Linked DNA regions of Homo sapiens. The protein of the gene in region 1 purifies or fractionates together with the protein of each later gene. This does not show direct contact. Each region holds a gene or a part of one and is shown on either strand. Other genes may lie near its edges.

Region 1 (8,319 bases):
TATGAAATAAAGACCAAATGCATGACTGGACTCTTATCTTTCCATTTAAAAAAGCTCATTGTATAGCTACCACCTCTCGTTCACTCCTAAAGGATTTAAGCAAATAAATAAGGACAAAACATTTTTCTAACAAAAACCACTTTTATTTTTAAATCAATTTACTATCAAATACACAACAGAACTCGGTGTGGAGGCAGTGTTTGATTTCAACTGGTTATCTGTTAAAAGGCTTGTGTCCCAGTGCAACACTACCTTTGTGCAGAAAATGTTCACTGAAAATAAATATCCTAAGAATGGATAATCTTCACTGTAGCATCTTGTCAGTGGCACTACTTTTAAAAAAATGATTCCCTTTAGAAAAGCTAGTATATTTGTATTCAGAGATTACAAGTGAGGGAACACACTGTGAATATTAGGTTTACCATATGTGAAATTTGTTTTTGACTTACAAAAATGCCCATGTCACATGGTTCACCTTTTATCTACTAAAGTTTAAAACAAATGTCATTTGTGTTGAACTTTGTTTTTTAAAAATGCAGTGATTAGGACCATTATTAGAACTTCTTTTACTCACTATAGACAATTCTTTTTGATAAAATCTTTAAAAAGTTACTTACTACAAACTGTAAAAACAATGCTGTTTTTCTATATGGCATTTCAGTTTTTAGGTTAAAAAAAACAAAACAAAACCCTATTTATACTCAAAACTTGGATAAAAGCTACAATTCCAAGTCTCATTTTCCCTTAACCCCAGCCACCCAAACACTACTCATTTCATAAATGAATACTATTTAGTACTGTACAGTAGATACATATTGACAGCTTCTATACTACTCCAGAAAGGCAAATATCTGTATTTCACCGAAAATATAAATTTGCTAGATATAGGTGGGATTTGTTTATACTAAAGTTCATTGCTTTATCCAACCCCATTCCCACACAAAAAATAAGCAATAAAATGATACTAAGCTAAGAAAAGGACTATTTTGGATAGAAATTAAATCATTTTTGACAATTTTGATGGCAATTATCACTACAGTGATAGACTTCCTCTTTTTACTATACTGAAATATGTGGACAGAAAGGGAAAGAATTTGTAAAATGAATGAGGTAAATGTCATACATTCAGTAGCGTAAATAAATACAAATACGGTTTTACAGGAACATGAACATAAGTTTAAGGGTTTTATTATCAAAGTCTTGTAAAACAATTTCAGAAACTGTACATCAACATGGCACAGACTGTAGCCTACTTTTGTTTCTACTGCACAAAAGTGAAGCTTGAAACTTCTGTAACTAAGAAAACAGTTGCCTACTTTGCATATATAACATGAAATCACCGTGTGCATAAGATTACTACTGCAGTAACACAAATTTATTGGTTTTATACAACTTGAGATCAAATAAAGGTACATTATCAAGTAGATTTGTCTTATTTTAAAAGCGTATGAAGGTCAATTTAAAATGCACTACCCCTTTTTTCCAACACGGAGCTTAAAACAAATTAATGAAAGAGTGGAAAATTCAAAATAAGGGCAAGAGATAAGGTTTTTTTCTTTTTTTCCTTTAAGATAGACTCAGGATAGGTAGATAGCTTTCACTGATGTAGATGTGGAATAAATTATTACTTCAGGAAAAAAATTCCCAAACATCTTATGAAAAAGTATACAACTCTACTTCAAAATATGCTATTTACTCACTGCCAAAGACAGTTTTATTTGAAATCTTGTTTCTGTATTTAAACCCTAATTAGCCACCAAAAAAGGTTAGTGCATAATAACCTTTCAAAGTTAAACAAAAGCCACAAAAATTTTGCCACAAGGCTTAAAGGATTATCTATTTCAAATGCTCATTTCCAGATGTAACTATAAGAATGTTAATTTGTCATGTCAACAAACAAGACCATAAGTAGATCCATCATGTTGGAGGATTTTAATGACATTTAGGATATTCTTGCCACAATAACATGCAATCAGTGCATTTCCTACATGGCTCTATTACGGCAATGAATCAAATTATAGAAATACTATAAGTGAACTTACTTAATAAAGGATATCATACGACATAAACAATCCATGCCTGCTGTAGATGCATGCAGCTTTTCATTTTTGTTATGAAGCAGCACCAGAATAGTAAAACTGCTTGGTTACTCAATCAGATTTCACCATGACAAGAATTGGTTACCTCGTACCATTTTCTAAAAGCTTTTTGATGTAAATAACTAATATGAGTAACAGGAGCTTTATAACCATTTATAACTCAGAGCTGTATACATCTAGGTTTGAGATGAACAAATACAGCATTAAGAAATCACACAAAGGAATGACACTGATGCAGGTATACAGTTGGACTCCCTCAGAGGCAATATTCAGTCACTCATATCCATGTCTTCTTCATGATGATCATCCCCATTCACTTTGGATTCTCTTAGTGAATCACCAGTTCCCTTTTCCACAGAACATTCCTTTGTTTTAGGGGAACCTGTTTCTATTGGTTTCTTCTCTTCTTTTTTCTCTTTCTCACTGTCATACCCCTGTTCCTCTTCATCATAATCCCGTGTAACCTGCTTTGCCAAGGAGAATAATAAAAGTAAACTTCTCCAAAGAAAAATAACTTCTGAAAGTACCAACATCACCCCAAATATAAAAATAAATCAATTTGTAAACATACTTTTACATCTTTATCACTCTCTGATTTTCTTTCCCGGTCCTTTTCCTTATCTTTACTCTTCTTCTTCTTGCTTGTTGATCGTTCTCTTTCATCCCTACTTCTTTCTTTGTCTTTATCTTTCTTCTTCTCCTTTTTATGTCTAGAATGACAGTAAAATGTACAGCAACAGGTTTAACTTGTTTAGATGATGAGCCTGACTCAATTTCACAGGATATAAGTAGTACAGCAAAGATCCAACTTCAAAACCTTGGAGAAGTAACACAGGCTACAAAACTAACTTGTTTATAGGACTAAAATGTTCAGTCCTTAATGGTGTTTAAGTCACAAGTCAGAAGGAGAATACATTAAAACATTCTTAAGAACTGTAACTGCTGAAAAGAAAAACTACAGGACAGTTTTAAAATGAAAAACCTCTGAAAAATATAAAAAATACATTTAAATGATTAACATTCTTACCTCCTAGGGGATGGTGAGCGGGACAATTTTCTTTTAGGAGACCGAGGCTTTTTAGGAGATCTTGTGCCACTCCTGCTTCTTCGTCGTCGTCTCTCTCTAGAATCACAAATGTGCAAACTAGGTTTTAAAATACAGTGTGATCTTAAAAATGCAGACACATCATAGATGATTCTAACAATGAAAGATGTGGCCAGATGTAGTGGCTCATGCCTATAATCCCAGCACTTTGGCAGGCTGAGGTGAGGGGATTGCTTGAGCCCAGGAGTTCCAGACCAGCCTGGGCAACATGGTGAAACTCTGTCTCTACAAAAAATACAAAAAAATTAGCCAGGTGTGGTGGTGCATGCCTGTAGTCCCAGCTACTCAGGAGGCAGAGGCAGGAAGATCACTTGAGCCTGCGGAGGTTGAAGCTGGAGTGAGTTGTGATAGGGCCACTGCACTCCAGCCTGGGCAACAGAGAGAGACCCTGTCTCAAAAAAACAGAAAAATGAAAGATTGTTTCACAATACTGGTATAAGCTAAACAATTAAATGAGTAATATAATCATCTGCAAACCATGAATCTTTCCCTTTACTACCCTCAAGAAAACTCCTAATTTCTAGTAATTCTTTTAATTGATGACAAAATGTTAGAAATACTAAGCTTGAGAAAAAACTGATTTAACAAAACTAATGCGAGAGGGGTGACGTGTGAAGTAAACTATTACTGAAGAAGTTAGTTTTTGGTTCAAACATTCAGTGTTCAGAGTAAGTACAGAATAATTCAATAATGTGATATAGAAGGTAGTTACTAATAAAATATCCCCACATTCACCTTTAAATCATTAGATGAAATTCAGAGAACTAGTTAGTGGAAAGGTAGAAACCTTATACTCTAGCAAAATCGCCCTCCTGCAGTCCCCCAAAACCCTGCTTTCACCAATTACTTTGAAGATATACAGCTGATATACAGCCTTCCCCTCCTTTTTACTGTAACTTAAAAAAAAAAATTCTGTTCCTGATTCTCAAAAGTTATCAGACTTAAAAAACCCTGTACTTAGTTGTCTAATTTCCAAATGAAGCTTTTTTTCTACTTACACAGCCCTCTGTGACCCTTGTCCTGGAAACGTTACACATAACTGAGCATTCACTTATCAAACATTGTCACGACTGTGCACCTTATACTTTTTGCTACTGTCTTATGTAACTGAAACTCCAAATTCTCTAGACGGAAGAAGTATTTTATATTACATTTCCGTGTCCTTCAACAGACTGTAGCACAACTACAAACACAGTGGGTATTTAATAACTCACAGAAGATGCCTTAATTTAGAGTGATCCAATAATACAGCATGAGAAGGCACTTACAAGTACATTATATAAAGCAACAGGTAAAAAAAAAAATCCTCAACAGTTTTTAAGGTAAGAAAATATATGTAGTACCTTCCATCTTTTCTATCTCTTTGCCACCTATCCCTCAGGCCTGATTCAGCATTTCCTTCTGTACTTACATTTGGTTTCATTTTCATGCTTAAAAATTTAGTTTTTAAGAAAATTTTCACCACCCCAAAAACTCCCTACCCTTTAGTTATCACTCTAATCCTCCCTATCTCCCCAGCAATCAGTAATCTACTTGGTATCTTTATAGATTTGCCTATTCTGGGCATTTCATATAAAAGGAATCACGCAATACACGGCCTTTCATGGATGTTTGCAAGTTTCATCCATACTGTAGCATGTATCAACCTTATTTATCACTGAAAAATATTCAATTGTATAGATATACCATTCTGTTTATCCATTTGTTAATGGATAGTTAACTTTTTGGCTATTATGAAATAATGCCACAAACATTCACATAAAAGTTTTTCTGTGAAAATGTTTTCATTTTCCCCCAGGGGTACAACTGGTGGGTCAAAAACCTCTATGTTTAACATTTTTAGGAAATGCCAGACTGTTTTCTAAAACACCTGTACCAGTTTATATTCATACTAGCAATGCACAGGGTTCTAATTTCTCCACATCCTAATCAACACTTACTATCATCTGTCAGGCTCAGCTATCATCTGTCTTTTTGATTTATAACCATCCTAGTGACTGTGACATATCTCACTGTGGTCTGGTTTGTATTTCCTTGGTGACTAATGATGTTGAACAGATTTTATGTACTTACTAGATATTTGCATATCTCCTTTGGAGTAATGGCTACAGATTCTTTGCCATTTTTAAATTGGGTTGCCTGTCTATTGCTGAGTTCTAAGAGTTCTTAATAGAGAATATATAAAGAATTTTCTAACTAGCACTCTAGGTTTTTACTTTCTTGATAGTATCCTTTGAAATACAAATGTTTTAACTTTTGGTGAATTCCAAAATTTTCTTTTCTTCTGTTGCTTATGCTTTTGAAGTCATATCTAGGAAACCACCAAGCTCATGGTCTTAAAGATTCACTTTTGTTTCTTTCTAAAGGTTTTATAGTTTTGGCTCTTACATTTAGGTCTTTTATACATTTCAGTTATTTTTTTTTATATGGCATGAACCTTCTCCTAGTGAATTTAAGTAATGTTGATGAATAAAACAAGCACTGCAGCAAAACATGTGAATGAGATCTGAAAAATGGAATGAAGTCCAGCCCTTACTATCATATAAATCCCAAATTAAGTATGAAAATGTGCTTTTTGTGCAGTAAGGTCTGCAACATTTCAATTTTCACTGACAGCTTAAAGATAGAATTAGTCTAAGAATGACACAAACCAGAACCTGCATTGCTTCCCATTAATTCAACAGTCATTAAAAGGGATAGAAAAATTCTCAAGTACTAACATGCAGATGATAAATATAGCTTACTATAATAAGCTTACTTAATGGAACAATTCAGTATGGTTTAGCCATTAAAACTTAAACTATAAAGAGAAAAACTCACCTCTCTTGAATTCCATGTTACTTCAAATATACTCTAGACCATAAAATATTAAGTAAAAAGAAAAATAAACTACATTATTCTTCACAAATTGCCTTTTAAAAACTTTAAATAACAGCAAAATGTAACTTTTTTCAACACTGAAATACTTATGTTCTGGAAAAGACTTCATACTGACAGCGTACTGATACTGTTAGAAGCAAAGTTAAAAAAATAATTGCCAAGAATTCACAATGCCACCTTACCTGCTTGCACTTCTAGAACGTCTGGCTGTGCTGTAACTTTTTGGTGGTGTTTTAGAACGTTTCTTTTCTTTGTCTTCTTTCTTTTTGTCTCTAACAAATGAACACAATTTATGAATGCATTAGAAGACTCAGCTGATGCCAATTTATATAGCACTACAAACACAAAAATATAATCAGATCTAATCCCATCCTTAAAAGCATAAATGTTGTTCTGACAGAAACTGTTTTAAAAATAATACTTTATGTGGCATATTTGAAGTACAATAACTTCTTTTAAAATCCTATTATCCTAGGTTTTCTCCCAAGTAGACTAAAGTAGACTATGGGTGAGAAAATAACTAGGATGTTGGCTTGAAATATACTTGGTAAACACCAATAAGTTAACTATCTCTAGGCTCCTCAAGACTCCTTTTTCTCTCAGCTGATTACCACTTTCCCAACCCACCTCTCCTATCAGGCCAAAACCCATAGAGCACTACCAAAATCCATCAATATCATGAATATTCTTCCAAGACACACATCCCATGTCAACCTCTATCATGGATCAAGCAAGCTTCTTTTTCTGCGGCTATTATGAACTATTCAGGGCTTATTAGAAAATATCAACAGATTTTGACTACAGCCGTAACTCAATTTTTTTTTTTTACAGATTCCTATAAATTTTTACTCCTCACAATATTTTTTCCCCAAGATCATCATTCTCCCCAAGACTCTAAGCAAAGAGTAGATAAACGATATATATTTGTTGAATGAGAAGTCTCATAACAACCCCCCTCTTTAACTATTCTCTAATTTTAAGAATCAAAGTATCCCTCTCTTACTGTTCTAAGCTAATCTTTCCATTCTGCATTCTCAATTTCATTTTTTTCCCTTCTCTGGTCATCCTCGGTTCCCTCTTCATTCAATCTTTATCATTGGTTCCCTCTTCATTTGAATCTTTATCATCTAACTCCTAGATTACTAGAACAGTCCCCTAGTAGGTCCCAGTCATGCCTTCCATAAACTGATTCTGTACTCTGTCAGAAATCTTTTAAAGTACAAACCTGAAAATATTAATTCCCTGTTCACCATTTTCAACTCATTCCAGTTGCCTCCTGGATCAAGTGCATAGTGTGAACAACAAAGCCTTCCACGATCGGTCTCATTATATTTTTCTGACCTCATTTTCTAGTCCAACTACATCAAAATATTGTTATTTCAAGAAACACCATTCTCCACCTGAAAGCATGCCTCCCGTTGAGTCTAGTCAAATCTTTCAGAATTTAATACTCGAGTCATTCTCAAACCTCTTCCAATATCAGCAAGTAGCAATCATCATTTAACAGTTCCTCCCCTGTAATTAAATCCATCACTCTTCTCCTAGTAATCAGAAAGTCCTTAAAGAAATGCTTAATTCCTTTGTATAACTGTTCTATTAATCTACCTTGTTTGATTCACTCTGCAGCACATAAGGACTAAAAGCCCCATTATTACAGGTTTAACAATGATAGTAAAGCTACCCCCACTCTTCTGTTCTCATCAGTTGAGTTTTATGCTTCCCAAGAGTAAGTTATGTTGTGTCCCCAGCTGTACTTACTTTAATGACATGATTTAACTAAATATATAAATGAACAAAATAATGCCAAATATAGAGTTGCTTCTAGAAAATTAAGATAAATATTTTAGCAAGAGATAAAAAGCAGTTGCTAAAAAAATTAAGTGCTGTGAAATTGTATGCCTCACAACTATAAATGACTGGGGGCATACTAATTTAAAAGTGTTTGGTTCTACACGAAAAGACTGGTTTTTGAATATATTTTTAGATGGAAATAAAACGTTACGGTATTTCTTATGAAAGAAGGTAGCAGGACAGCTAACAATTCCTACTACTAAGAAATTTTACTTAGGCCCTCAGCTGTAAGCTGAAGTTTCAGTTTACAAGGAAGCACCAGAAAGCAAACGTCAGCCTCCTCAAACTCAAATATTGACAGTTTCTTCCCCTGTCTAGCCCTATTTCTCTGCCCCGCACCCCAACCACCTCTTTTGTTACTAAGTAGCACAGTACTAGGGGTAC
Region 2 (7,659 bases), on another chromosome or scaffold:
GTGGCTCACGTCTGCAATCCCAACACTTTGGGAGGCCAAAGCAGGGGGCTCACGTGAGGTCAAGAGTTCTAGACCAGCCTGGCCAACATGGTGAAACCCCATCTCTACTAAAAATACATAAATCAGCCAAGTGTGGTAGCACATGTCTGTAATCCCAGCTACTCGGGAGGCTGAGGCAAGAGAATCACTTGAACCCAGGGTGCGGAGTTTGCACTGAGCTGAGATCGTGCCACTACACTCCAGCCTGGGTGACAGAGTCTGTCTAAAAAAATAAAAAATAAAAATAAAGTCTTATTCCACCTTTATAATGCAGTAAATTGGCTGGGCGTGGTGGCTCACGCTCATAATCCCAGCACTTTGGGAGGCCGAGGTGGGTGGATCACAAGGTCAAGAGATTGAGACCATCCTGGCCAGCATGGTGAAACCCCATCTCTACTAAAAATACAAAAATTAGGAGAGGGGGTGGCTGCAGTAATGAGAGGCTGGTGCTGCAGCTCTTTTCCTGCAGTCCAGCCAAGGAAGCGTGCGTCCCTGGCGCTTCCTTCTCTTTGGACAGAGAGCTTGGGATGTGGTAATGCCAGCCAGACTTCTCAGAGCCATGGTCAGATCTACCGTACACTGGCAAAAGCACATCAGTGCCAAAGAATTGGTCATCTAATGTTAAAACCACTAAAGGAATTTGAAAATACAACATGCGGCACACTGACAATACGTCAAAACTTGGATTTGTTCCTTCCTGATAATACAGCTGGTAGTCTGAATAAGTCTCAGATCCTGTAAATGAACCAAAAAAAAAAAAAAAAAATCAAATACAAGCATTGTCTCTCCATTAAATGCTGCTCACTGCCAAGACGAAAAGGCACACCTTCCAACCATGAAATCCTTTGGTACTCACAAGAGAGTGACCCACAAACCAAATCTATTGGGGTCTAAATGGTTTATAAAAATATTAAAGAGGCATTTCTCATCTGTATCAATGGAAACATTTGTTCCAAAACAAGGCTTTCCACATATCAAGAGACCACTAAAGCATCCAGGACCAAGCAGCCATCTAGGACCAACCTTCCAGTTCTGTCTGTGAACGAGGTAAAGTTGGGGTGGTCGTAGCTCATGTGCTTAGTGATCACTGCTCACGCTAAACCAGTGTGCGCTGCACCCCAGCCTTACCGCCAACTTAAGAAACTGGCAGTCAACTCAGACTGCTCCATCAAGATCTTTGAAGCCTAATAAATATCCAAAGAGATTCAAAATCTTAATTTTTAAGAATTAATGATACATATAAAAACAAAATACAGGCCGGGCGCGGTGGCTCACACCTGTAATCCCAGCACTTTGGGAGGCCGAAGCGGGTGGATCACGAGGTCAGGACATCGAGACCACGGTGAAACCCCGTCTCTACTAAAAATACAAAAAAAAAAAAAATTAGCTGGGTGCGGTGGCAGGCGCCTGTAGTCCCAGCTACTAGGGAGGCTGAGGCAGGAGAATGGCGTGAACCTGGGAGGCGGAGCTTGCAGTGAGCCAAGATCGCGCCACTGCACTCCAGCCTGGGCAACAGAGCGAGACTCTGTTTCAAAAAAAAAAAAAAAAATACAGGCAATAAAACATGAAAAAAATACAAAAATTATCCAGGCGTGGTGGCACATGCCTGTAGTCCCAGCTCTTGGGAGGCTAAGGCAGGAGAATTGCTTGAACCCGGGAGGTGGAGGCTGCAGTGACCCGAGATCAAGCCACTGCACTCCAGCCTGGTGACAGAGCAAGACTGCCTCAAAAATAATAAAATAATAATAATGCAGTAAATTATTATAATACGGACATATTTATTTAACCAACATTAACAGTTGGCTCCACTTTCAGCTCTCACAAATAATGTTGAACATTCCTGGAGATAATAGACATATAACTGTATGCATCTGTACAGGTAATTCTCTAATACAGGTTAGAACTATATGTATCTGATTAGCTGGGTGTGATGGCAGGTGCCTGTAGTCCCAGCTACTCAGGAGGCTGAGGCAGGAGAATCGCTTGAACCTGGGAGGCGGAGGTTGCAGTGAGCCGAGACGGTGCCATTGCACGTCAGCCTGGGCGACAGAGCAAGAATCCACATCAAAAAAAAAAAAAAAAAAAATTATATGTATCCAAACTTTACCTCCAAAATCATCCCTGAAAACTAGCATATAAATGTATATTCCCACCACCAGAATATGGGTATGCCCTTTCCTCATATCCTCATCATTGGTAGAATAGATCAGTGTCAAAATTCTCACAATTTCATAAGTAAAATATACTCTTATTTCAATTTACATTTCCCTCATGACTAATGAGGTTGAGTATGCGTTTACCTGTTTACTAGACATTTCTTTAAAACAGAAAAGCATGACCTACATGCTCACAGCTCTACTTCCTCAGAATTCCTTTGACTTAAATTGGGATAATACCATATTCAATAAAACTAAACTTCAATTTCAGAAAACACAGTATACTTAAAATATTTAGAAAACTTTATAGGTAAAGGAATCCCTAGGATGCATTTTTTTTTTTTTTTTTTTGAGATGGAGTCTTGCTCTGTCACCCAGGAGTGCAGAGGCACCATCTCAGCTCACTGAAACCTCCGCCTGTCGGGTTCAAGCGATTCTCCTGCCTCAGCCTCCCAAGTAGCTAGGATTACAGGTGCACACCACAAGGCACGCACGACCAAGCTCAGCTAATTTTTGTATTTTTAGTAGAGACGGGGTTTCACCATGTATGGCCAGGCTGGTCTCAAACTCCTGGCCTCAAGTGATCCGTCGGCCTCGGCCTCCCAAAGTGCTGGGATTACAGGTATAAGCCACTGCGCCCAGCCCTTAGGAGGATTTAATATACTTGGCAAATGAGGTATTAGAAATGTTTTAAACAGTAGGTAGGTTATCAGTACATATTAACAATGAAAAACACAAGATTGCAAGACTGTAAATGTGTTGAGTTTTAAAATAAACTTTCTGTAAAACTTTTTGACCAAAACCAAAAACTGGGGGTGGTATCTCTTTTTAAAACAGAAAGGGCTACTGTCCTACTTACAGAAGCTCTTCTATTATCATTATAATAGCCTATCTCAGTGCTTTCTTAGGATAGTTGGTTTTCATACCTGTTGAATAAACTGATTAATGAATAAATCAGTAAACAAACTCTGAGGACTTCAATAAACAAATTTATTATGCTATCTCATGCCGCATACTATATTCTAGCAATGGCCCAGTGCCTAGCCTCACAATGGTTACAAGACTGGGCCATGAACTCATTTTTAAAACCACTTTTCCCCCAATAATATTAGATATAAATAATGCTTAAAAACTAAAACTCTCGGTCAGGGGCGGTGGCTCACACCTGTAATCCCAGCACTTTGGGAGGCCAAGGCGGGCAGATCACTGGAGGTCAGGAGTTCGAGACCAGCCTGGCCAAAATGGTGAAACCCCTGTCTCCACTAAAAATATAAACACTGGGCTGGGTGAGGTGGCTCATGCCTGTAATCCCAGCACTTTGGGAGGCCAAGGCAGGCAGATCACAAGGTCAGGAGATCAAGACCATCCTGGCCAACACGGCGAAACCCCGTATCTAATACAAAAAGTTATCCAGGCATGGTAGTGTGCGCCTGTAGTCCCAGCTACTCAGGAGGCTGAGGCAGGGGAATTGCTTGAACCTGGGTGGCAGGGGTTGCAGTGAGCCAAGACTGCGCCACTGCACTCCACCTTGGCGACAGAGCAAGACTCAGTTTCAAAAAAAAAAAAAATTAGCTGGGCACAGTGGCTCACCCCTGTAATCCCAGCACTTTGGGAGGCCGAGGCAGACCGATCACTTGAGGTCAGGAGTTGGAGACCAGCCCGGCCAACATGGTGAAACCCCGTCTCTACTAAAATACAAAAACTAGCTGGGTGTGGTGGCGGGTGCCTGTAATCCCAGCTACTCAAGAGGCAAAGGCAGGAGATCACTTGAACTCGGGAGGCCGAGGTTGCAGTGAGCCGAGATCGCGCCACTGCACTCTAGCCTGGGTGACACAGTGAGACTCTGTCTCAAAAGAAAACAAACAAACAAACAAACAAAATTAGCCAGGTGTGGTGGTGCGCACCTGTAATCCCAGCTACTCTGGAAGGTGAGGCAGGAGAATTGCTTGAACCTGGGAGGCAGATGTTGCAGTGAGCCGAGGTCGCGCCACTGCACTCCAACCTGAACGACAGAGTAAGACTCCGTCTAAAAAAAAAAAAAAAGTAAAACTCTATATTCTTGGTATTTAAGTTATATTTTATGGTTTTTAAATGTGTAATTCATTCTGCAGAGTTAACCAGATATATTTAATTTTCGTTTATGCCAATATACCCATTCCATTCACTTCAAATTTTTCCATAACATATTCCCCTTTATTTGGAGCTGCCAAAACTTGCTTGTTGATAGGCTGGACTTCAAAGGTGAAGGCAAAAATACCAGTTAACAGCTAATTTTTATGGATATTCCTTTAAGATAACTGGCCTCTCCTGGGCGCGGTGGCTCACATCTGTAATCCCAGCACTTTGGGAGGCTGAGGCGGGCGGATCACAAGGTCAGGAGTTCGAGGCCAGACTGGCCAACATGGTGAAAGCCCGTCTCTATTAAAAATACAAAAATTAGCCAGGAATGGTGGTAGGCGCCCGTAGTCCCAGCTACTCGGGAGACTGAGGCAGGAGAATTGCTTAAACCTGGGAGGCAGAGGTTGCAGTGAGCTGGGACCGCGCCACTGCACTCCAACCTGGGTGACAGAGCGAGACTCCATTTCAAAACAAAAATAAAAAAGATTGGTCTCTCATGGAAAATCAGAAAACATTTCTCATCTTTGATAAATACTAATGTCCACTTTAAGCAGCCTAAAAGATTACCAACTACTTATTTCAACACAGGTTTATGTGTTTTGCCATGTGAAACTGATTGAGAATTAACTTTCATAATCATAAGCAAAGCTTATCTGTTACCTATAGATGATAAACAAAATAAATTATAATACATTGAAAGATGGTATGTACTTTGTAGAAAAATAAATTAGGGAAGAGAGCTATGGAGTAGTTTATTTTAAATACAGCGATTAGGCCTCACCAAGAAGGTGAAGATTAGAACAAAGATTTAAAAGAGGCAGAGGCAGGAAGCCCTATTCATATCTGGGGGAAAGAGACTTCCAAGCAAAGGAAAAGACAAATACAAAGAGGCTGAAGCAGGAATGGTGTATTTGAGGGAGGAATAGCAAGGCCAACAGTATGACTGGAGCAGAATAAATGAAGAAAATCAGAAATAAATACTGAGTATTATGAGTAGAGTGTAGGGCTATGTAACACAATGTAAATAAACATTTTAGTTTTAACTCTGAATGAGGTGAAAATCATTTGAAGAGTTTCTGACTTGTCACATTTTAACAGTATCACTGGCCACTGTGTTAAGCCTGGAAGGGAACAGGATACAAGCAAGAGACTGGTACAATAATCCATATAAGAGATGGTAGCCTGGAGAGATGGTGGCCTGGAACAGGTGGTAGTGGTGAAAGTGCTATCAAGTTGTTGGATCCTGGATATATTTTGAAGGCAGCCAATAGGATTTGCTGAGGGATTGTATAATATGTGGGATTTAAAAGAGAGAAATGCAGAGTTATCTTATGGCACTGAAATCATTTCCATAGCATTTTTTAAAATATTGAAAGTACCTCACATTTTAGAAGGTTCAAAGCACCTTTTCCTGCTAAGTATGAAACTCCGGGCCGGGCGCGGTGGCTCAAGCCTGTAATCCCAGCACTTTGGGAGGCCGAGGTGGGTGGATCACGAAGTCAGGAGATCGAGACCATCCTGGCTAACACAGTGAAATCTCGTCTCTACTAAAAATACAAAAATTTAGCCGGGCATAGTGGCAGGCGCCTGTAGTCCCAGCTACTCGGGAGGCTGAGGCAGGAGAATGGCGTGAACCCGGGAGGCGGAGCTTGCAGTGAGCAGAGATTGTGCCACTGCACTCCAGCCTGGGCGACAGAGCCAGACTCCATCTCAAAAAAAAGAAACTCTATAGCCCACGATAATAAAAACAGGAACCTGGGCCAGGTGCAGTGGCTCATACCTGTAATCCCGGCGTTTTGGGAGGCCAAGGCATGCAGATCACTTGAGCTCAGGAGTTCAAGACCAGCCTGGGCGACATGGTGAAACCCCATCTCTACCAAAAATACAAAAAATTAGCCAGGTGTGGTAGCATGCACCTGTGGTCCCAGATACTCAGGAGGCTGAGATGGGAGAATCGCTTGAGCCCGGGAGGTGGAGGTTGCAATGAGCCGAGCTCACACCACTGCACTCAAGCCTGGGCGACAGAGTGAGGCCCCCCAAAAATTAAATAAAATAACAGAAACCTATGATAGAAGGGTTCCCTACCTCTAGTGTAGCGGTGGTCACACAAGTATATGCATTTGTCTAAACTCATTGAAATTAAAACAGATGCATTTTATTGTATGCAAATTTTATCTCAAGAAATCTGGTCCAAAAAGAAACCCTGAAGACATATCTCTAGTACTCAACATATGCATGCACTCAGCTTTTCTTTTTTCACTTTTTTCTCTTTGAATCTTTCAAACTATTTTTTTCTGCACTCTTAAGAATACTGCAAGTATGCAAAATACAGCAAAACACTGCTAATAAGCATTCCTCTATTGTAGACTTATCCAGATAGAAACAAAATTATTTCTCCCAGGATAGATTATTTTAGACTAGCTCCATCAGTACACTACGTGCCAAATTTCTGAAATGATAATGAACTGAGATTCCTCTGAGCAAATATTCACATACAACTCACTCATTCATTCAATATCTACTTCCAATTATGTGTCAGGTCTGCAGGAATTATTCCTAGAAAAAAAAAAGTGTTTTATGCCCAAAGAAGAATGGGAAATGCTTAACAGAAAAACTACTTTTACAGCAAAGCTTTTCAGAAGTATGAAAATACTCAATTGTTTGGAAATCTCCAAAAAAGAGTTGATCTTTTTCTGACATTGCCACTTTTGTTGTTTTACCATTTTCAATGATTAAAGAGCAACACTCCTGTGCCTGCCTATAGTCACAGCTACGCAGGAGGATCACTTGAGCCCTGGAGTTCTGGGCTGCAGCACGCTACTGATCAGGTGTTCATGCTAAGTCCATTCAGCATTAATATGGTGACCTCCTGGGATGAGAGAGAACCACCAGGTTGCCAACAGAGAAGGGCAAAACTCCCAAACTGATCAATAGTGGGATTACGCCTGTGAATAGCCACTGCACTCCAGCCTGAGCAACACAGGAAGAATTCATCTTTTTAAAAACAAAAACAAGGCTGGGCACAGTGGCTCATACCTGTAATCCCAGCACTTTGGGAGGACGAGGCAGGTGGATCCTTTGAGCCTGAGTTCCAGACCCGCCTGGGCAACATGGTGAAACCCCATCTCTACCAAAAATACAAAAAAATAGCCAGGCATGGTGGCGTGCACCTGTGGTCCCAGCTACTTGGGAGGCTGGGGTGGGAGGATTGCTTAAGCCTGAAATGCGGAAGTTGCAGTGAGCCAAGATCGCAGCACTGCCCTCCACCTGGGTGAAAGAGACCCCATCTCAAAAACCAAATAAAACAAAAAAGCAGCGCTATCTACTACTATCTATACAGAAAAAT

The links.
Region 2: the proteins of SRSF11 (region 1) and RBM25 purify together in Homo sapiens (affinity purification with mass spectrometry; 2 studies listed by BioGRID and IntAct, with this or other methods). This does not show direct contact.

Annotation. Positions count from the first base shown.
Region 1 is NC_000001.11:70,244,855-70,253,173, reverse strand, and holds the end of SRSF11 (serine/arginine-rich splicing factor 11), read right to left. Parts: intron 6,357-8,319; coding exon 6,267-6,356; intron 6,058-6,266; coding exon of another isoform or gene 6,042-6,057; exon of another isoform or gene 6,025-6,041; intron 3,244-6,024; coding exon of another isoform or gene 3,223-3,243; coding exon 3,127-3,222; intron 2,810-3,126; coding exon 2,671-2,809; intron 2,567-2,670; coding exon 2,369-2,566; 3' UTR 122-2,368; downstream 1-121. UniProt on the Homo sapiens protein: May function in pre-mRNA splicing.
Region 2 is NC_000014.9:73,061,534-73,069,192, reverse strand, and holds part of RBM25 (RNA-binding protein 25), read right to left. Parts: intron 4,222-7,659; exon of another isoform or gene 4,100-4,221; intron 1-4,099. UniProt on the Homo sapiens protein: RNA-binding protein that acts as a regulator of alternative pre-mRNA splicing. Involved in apoptotic cell death through the regulation of the apoptotic factor BCL2L1 isoform expression.